Linked DNA regions of Homo sapiens: region 2 is linked to region 1. The links come from fine-mapping of genetic effects on gene expression. Tissue or cell type: subcutaneous fat. Region 1 holds a variant in brackets; the other region holds the start of a gene. All regions are shown on one strand. Distances are between the middles of the regions.

Region 1 (2,762 bases):
AATCATACCATGCTGGTTGCATCACTGTTTAGAACTAGGACATCAAAAACTTGGCCACTTTCCTTAAAGTCTTGCAAAGCTTTTAGCCTTCAGCTCCTTGGGGATTTCTATGTATTTTTAGCTTGTTTATGGATAATGTAATAGGCATGTTTGAGGAAAATTTAAGGGAAGCCACCCATGAAGCACATAACAAATTGAAAGGTTGGTTATTCTTATATTCGTGAGAAATTGCCGGTCATTCACGAGAAACAAAAACACATCTGATTGTGGGGCAGTCTCAGGGGTGCAATAGAGCACTCGCAGCTTTAGGAGTCCTTGGCACAGGCACCAGAGGAGTGGGCTGGGAGTCCTTTATCACACCCACTCTAGAGACCCCTTTCCTTCTCATCTCTTATTTCTCCCATCCTTTCTCCTCCACTCGTGTTTTCCCCACTCCTCTTTTCTTTGCCCCTTCCATTCCTTCTTGCTTTCCTGCCTGTCTTCAGCTTGCCAGTGACAATGGAAGGCACTGCCATAGATAATATCTTTTTGGATGTCCTTAGTTTGGTCTCTGTTGTCCAGTAAAGTGAATTTATCCATTTGAGTAAATTTCTCCAGGAATCAAAACAGAATAAACCAATCTTCTCTGGGATAATACTGTATCAGTGCCCTATCACTTCCTTGGTGGCAGGAGTAAATTTCCTACATCCTTTGTGCTCCTGACACATTACCTGCTATGACACTATGCACTGAACAGGCTTGCAGGGCAGTTTTCATACTGACTGAATGCGAACAACAAAATGAACATGGCTTACATTAGATTCACGGATGCTTATGAATCCAAACAGTTATACTAATTCTCATGCATTTTCATAACTGCTAGGTGCTTTTTAACTCCGTGCACTGTGAAAAGGACTGGGGAAGTATAGGCTGTTTTTTAAAGTAATCCACTTTTACTCTCTTGTGTTTCTAAAAAGCATGTAACTTAAATAGAAATAAATTATATTAATTCAGTTAGTCATTTACCCATATTAAAAAGCAGTTTCAAAGGTTTTTCCACACTGTGGTAAGAAGATATTCTTAGGGCCATAAAACACATGGCAAAAAATAATAATTATGCCATACCCGGAGCTCCATTCTTCCCATGTACTGGGAGATAAACATTTTCCAGTTCAGAAGAGATACAAAACCATCCCCTTCTCCTACTGCCCTTTGGCCTCTTCTGTGCTCCTTGTGGCACTG[C/G]CACAGCCCCCAGAGTAGCAGCCTTCATGGTAGTGCCAAGTAGCTGTGTAAGAAGCACAGAGCCCCCTTGGAACACAGGAGAAGAGCAAACAATAGAAGATACGTTCAAAGGATATCCTTATGGGGCTCTGAGTGCTCCCTTTCCAGCCCCTAACATAGAGCAGCACAGTGTCTAAGATGTATTCACTCTACAGTTAATTAATTCAGACTTTTCCATACTGGGTGTCAGGGCTAACTCCTATGCCTTTTGGATCACGTGAATGTTTCATTTTATTTATTTACTTTTACTATATGTAATAGTTTCTTAGAATTAAACTTTTTCACCCATTTTACATATTTTGTAAATAAGATGATATATGGAGTTAAAATTCTCTCCACCCTTGAAAATACCTCTCCCAACTTAGTGTTATTTTGGTAAGAAACTAAATATACAATGGATTTTAGCTATTAAGCATGGTTTTGAAATATGCTCACTAATCATTAAATAAGATAGAATTCAGCTAACTGTGCTACTATCCTTTATTTCTCCATTTGATATGCCCTCCTGCCCTTCTCCAATGTAGCTTAGTAAGAATGGTCTAGTGCAGTGGAACAACCACAAACTTTGTAGTGAGATAAATGTGCTATGTGACCTTGGGCAACTTACCTCATTGAGCTTTGAGTTCCTCATGTGTAAAATGGGGAAAATATACTTGAGGATAAAATAAGATAATGTGTATAATGCACCTGGCAAGTAGAAGGTACACAGTAAGTGGAAGCTATTGTCATTGCTATTATCCTATTCTTCAGCCAACATCTACATTGACTAAAGGTGACAAATAGTGTCCTACTCACTGGTATATGAAGACATGGAGATAGAGTAGAAGAAGGCTTTAGATTATCCTTGGATTTCAGAAGTTAGTTATGTTTATATTCTTCAAACACTACATGCTTATTCTGGTCATTGGTAATACGAATGTTCATGAAATTGTTTCCTTCTTGTCGTTCAAGTCTCAGGTTAAATTTTATCTCCTTAGAGAACTTTGACCAGCCCTTCCAAAGTAGCCACCCAGTCACTTTCTATTACATCATCATCCATTCTATTTCAATTATTTTCATTGCACTTATTAGTATTTGGAACTTTTAGAAAAGTTGTTTATTTCTGTTCTTTCTTTTCCCCTCCTCTCTTTCTTCTCCCTCCCCCTACCTCTGCTCTGTCTGTCTCTCTTTCTCCTCTCTCCCTTTGCCTTAGAATATATATTTCACAAGAAACAGAAACCTGTTCAGTCTTTTTCATTTCTGGGGAGATGGAGTCTTGCTCTGTCGCCCAGGCTGGAGTGCAGTGGCGTCATCTCGGCTCACTGCAACCTCTGCCTCCTGGGCTCAAGCAATTCTCCTGCCTCAGTATCCTGAGTAGCTGGGATTACAGGCACCCACCACCACACCTGGCTAATTTTTGTATTTTTACTAGAGACAAGGGTTTCACCACGTCGGCCGGGCTGGTCTGGAACTCCTGACCTCAAGCGATCTGCCTGCCTCGGCCTCCCAAAGTACTGGGATTA
Region 2 (2,762 bases), 79 kb after region 1:
CCCACCTCCTCATCCCTCCCTCCTCCGTGAGCGAGCCAGTTCACTGTGTCTTTCGCATCCACCATTCTTCGAGGGGGTACAGGCACAACCTACAGCCGCTGATCCCCAAGACCCTTGCTGTCACACTTCTTTCTGCAGGGTTATTACGACCAGGGTGTCACCCTGAATTTGGGGGACTGCAGATTTAAAAATAGTGCATGTGCCACGTGATCGGCATTGAGGAGCTGAGGGTGGGGGAGTGGCTGGCACTCAGGCAAATGATTAACATACATGACTCCCCCCACCCCCTCTCAATTAAAAAAAAAAAAAAAGAGGCGCAGTTTTCACCCACCATCTTGCAGTCGTCCAGGGCTCGTTGGGTTTTGTGGGCGCTCTCGGAGCCGCTGCCCCTGCGCTCCCAATCTCCGCTCTGCAGCGGGGGCTTGCTGATCTGGAAGATCGAGGAGCGGGTGGACCGGCTGGGGCGCTTTTTGCGCCCATTCGGTGCAGAACTCATGCATACACATCCACCAAGCCGAAGCCGCTGGTGCAGTGCGCCCCGGCGCGGGCGGCCCGGTTGTTGCCCTGGGCGCCGCCGCCAAGCAGCCGGAGCCCGGACCTGAGGCGCGCAGCTCACAGTGCTGGGGCTGGCTGCGCGGGTCGGTAACCTTCAGCTTGAAGGAGAGCCGGGGAAGCGCTAGCTGTGCCGTGCAGCATCGCTTCCACTAGCAGCGAGGAAGGAGCGCGATCAAGTTCTGCTCAGCAGCATTGCCGACCCTGTCCCGGGAGCTGGGCGCTGGCGCGGGCTCGCACTGCCTTCCTCTCGGCATGGATTGCAAGGCTGGGCGAGAAGGAACGCGCCGCCCGGCGGTTCCGAGTTTCCATTCAGGTGGGGGAGCAGCTTTCAAAGCCTGCGCTGCAAGGTGGGGGGCGGAAAGGGGTGTCGCTCTTGCTTCAGTGTCTTCCCGCAGCGGCACTCGGTTCGTCTTTCCCCTCCCTCCACTGTCGCCAGGCCTGGAAGGACTGGCCGTCCCCAAAGCAAGCAATTGGCTCTAATCGGCTGCCTTGATCCCTCGTCTCTAAGGGCTTGTCTGTTTGAAGATCCCAGATGAATCTGTGGCGGGACTGGCAGACGCAGAGAATCGGTCCGGCTGACGTTGTTCGCGGGCCCGCACATTGATAGGACGGGAATACTAATGTGATCTGTCCATGCAACCCCCTTCCCCCTCCACAGTTTATGCACTTATCCAATCAAATCCCCGGGAACATCAATTGCAATATTACTTCATCTGCTCTATTATTAGAAACGAAAAGTGTCATCAGAGTGGAGCACATGCCACATGCTGGGACCTAAACATGGATTTCAAATAAGCCAGTGTGGGCTTGAGGCCCTCACCAACTGAGACTGAGACAGGGGCCACAGGAGGGAGTGAGGTTTTGCTCCAAATGGAAGACCTCTTGATAACCTAAAAGGAGAGCTTTGTTTCCCTGAGTTGTTTTGTTTTTATTTTGTCCTTGTTCATGGAGGGGGAAAGAGGAGAGCCAGTGAGGCAGAATGCACAGAGGCATTCACTCAGATTGGGCCTCATCCCCATCCCATTTCAAGTAGTAAAGCTCTTGGTCTTGCATTGCAGGGTCTCAGGACTCAGCTCCTAGAGTTCCCTTCCGGAGACTTGAACAAATAAGAGCCAAGAGATCTCCCTGGACACTCAAAATGACCTTCTTCTCACTTATGGGATATCAGTAACCCAGAGGCCAACAGAGGTGGCCCAGAAAATCGGGGATGATTCTTGTGTGAAAGGAGTGGGGGTGAGGCCCTCAGCCATTTAAGTTCACCCTTCCCACTGACATCTTCCTAAGGTTCTTCTGGGAGGAAGAGAGAGTGTTGTGGCATTCAACTCTAAGGCTCTAAGGATGCTTGTTCTCCTGAATGATTTGTTTGGAGAGGGAGATAAAGGGGTCTCCCATAGGAAAACTAGTTATGTATTAGTAATCCTAATAAGAACAGATTAGAGGTTCCTGGTCAGTCTGTTAAAGGGATATGGAGAGTACATAGAAAGAGAAAGCCTGAAATAGCCAGGAAGGTTAATATCCTAAGGAGGGTGGCTTTACAACCTTTTCTACAAGACAAGTAAATATAATGGGGTACTATAATAAGAGAGTTATTTGGTCTTTGTCCCCAGTCCCTAGGGCAGAACTCCTAAAACCCTTAGAAATTGCCTGAGTTATTATGATAAGCCATCTTGTCACCAGAAAGACCAAGCCTTGATTAGTTGCTTGCAACTTTCAGCCTCATCCCCCAATCTCAGGGGATAGGAGAGGAGCTAGTGACTGCGTTCCTCACCAATGGCCAATTATTTAATCAATCATGCCTACATAAAGAAACCTCTGTAAAACTCCTAAACAACAATAGAGTGTGGGGAGCTTCTGGGTTGTGGAAGACATCTAGGTGCTGGAAGGGTGGTACACCAGGAAAGAGCATGGAAGTTCCATGTCCTTTTCCCATACCTTGCCCTATGTTTCTCTTCCAGTTGGCTGCTCCTCAGTTGTATCCTTTAGAATAGACTGCTAATAGTAAGTAAAGCTCTTTCCTGAGTGCTGTGAGTCATTCTAGTGAATTACCAAATCTGAGAAGGTGGTTATAGGAACCCCTGAATTTGTCGCCAAGATGGAGAGAAGAGTTGGTAACCTGTGGATCCCATACTTGTGACTGGCCTCTGAGATGAGGGCAGTCTTGTGGGACTGAGCCCTTAAACCTGTAAATCTGACGTTAACTCTGGGTA

Alleles and levels. Alleles are on the strand shown, and positions count from the first base shown. SD is a standard deviation of normalised expression in the study named.
With allele G in place of C in region 1, the expression in subcutaneous fat of the gene that starts at base 1,106 in region 2 is higher (small effect, 0.27 SD a copy in GTEx).

The links. PIP is the estimated chance that this variant, and not a neighbour inherited with it, causes the effect.
Region 2: RGS7BP starts here. The variant in region 1 is fine-mapped to the expression of RGS7BP in subcutaneous fat (GTEx, PIP above 0.99).

The regions. Positions count from the first base shown.
Region 1 is chr5:64,583,131-64,585,892 of GRCh38, reverse strand. All of the region lies in intron 3 of RGS7BP (regulator of G protein signaling 7 binding protein), which reads right to left. Among named protein-coding and RNA genes, the nearest start is that of RGS7BP, 78 kb to the right of the region's middle. The variant C/G (reference allele first, on the strand shown) is at 1,222.
Region 2 is chr5:64,504,359-64,507,120 of GRCh38, reverse strand. RGS7BP (regulator of G protein signaling 7 binding protein) reads right to left here and starts at 1,106. Exons shown (of 6, transcript NM_001029875.3): 1 at 332-1,106. The coding sequence starts at 496.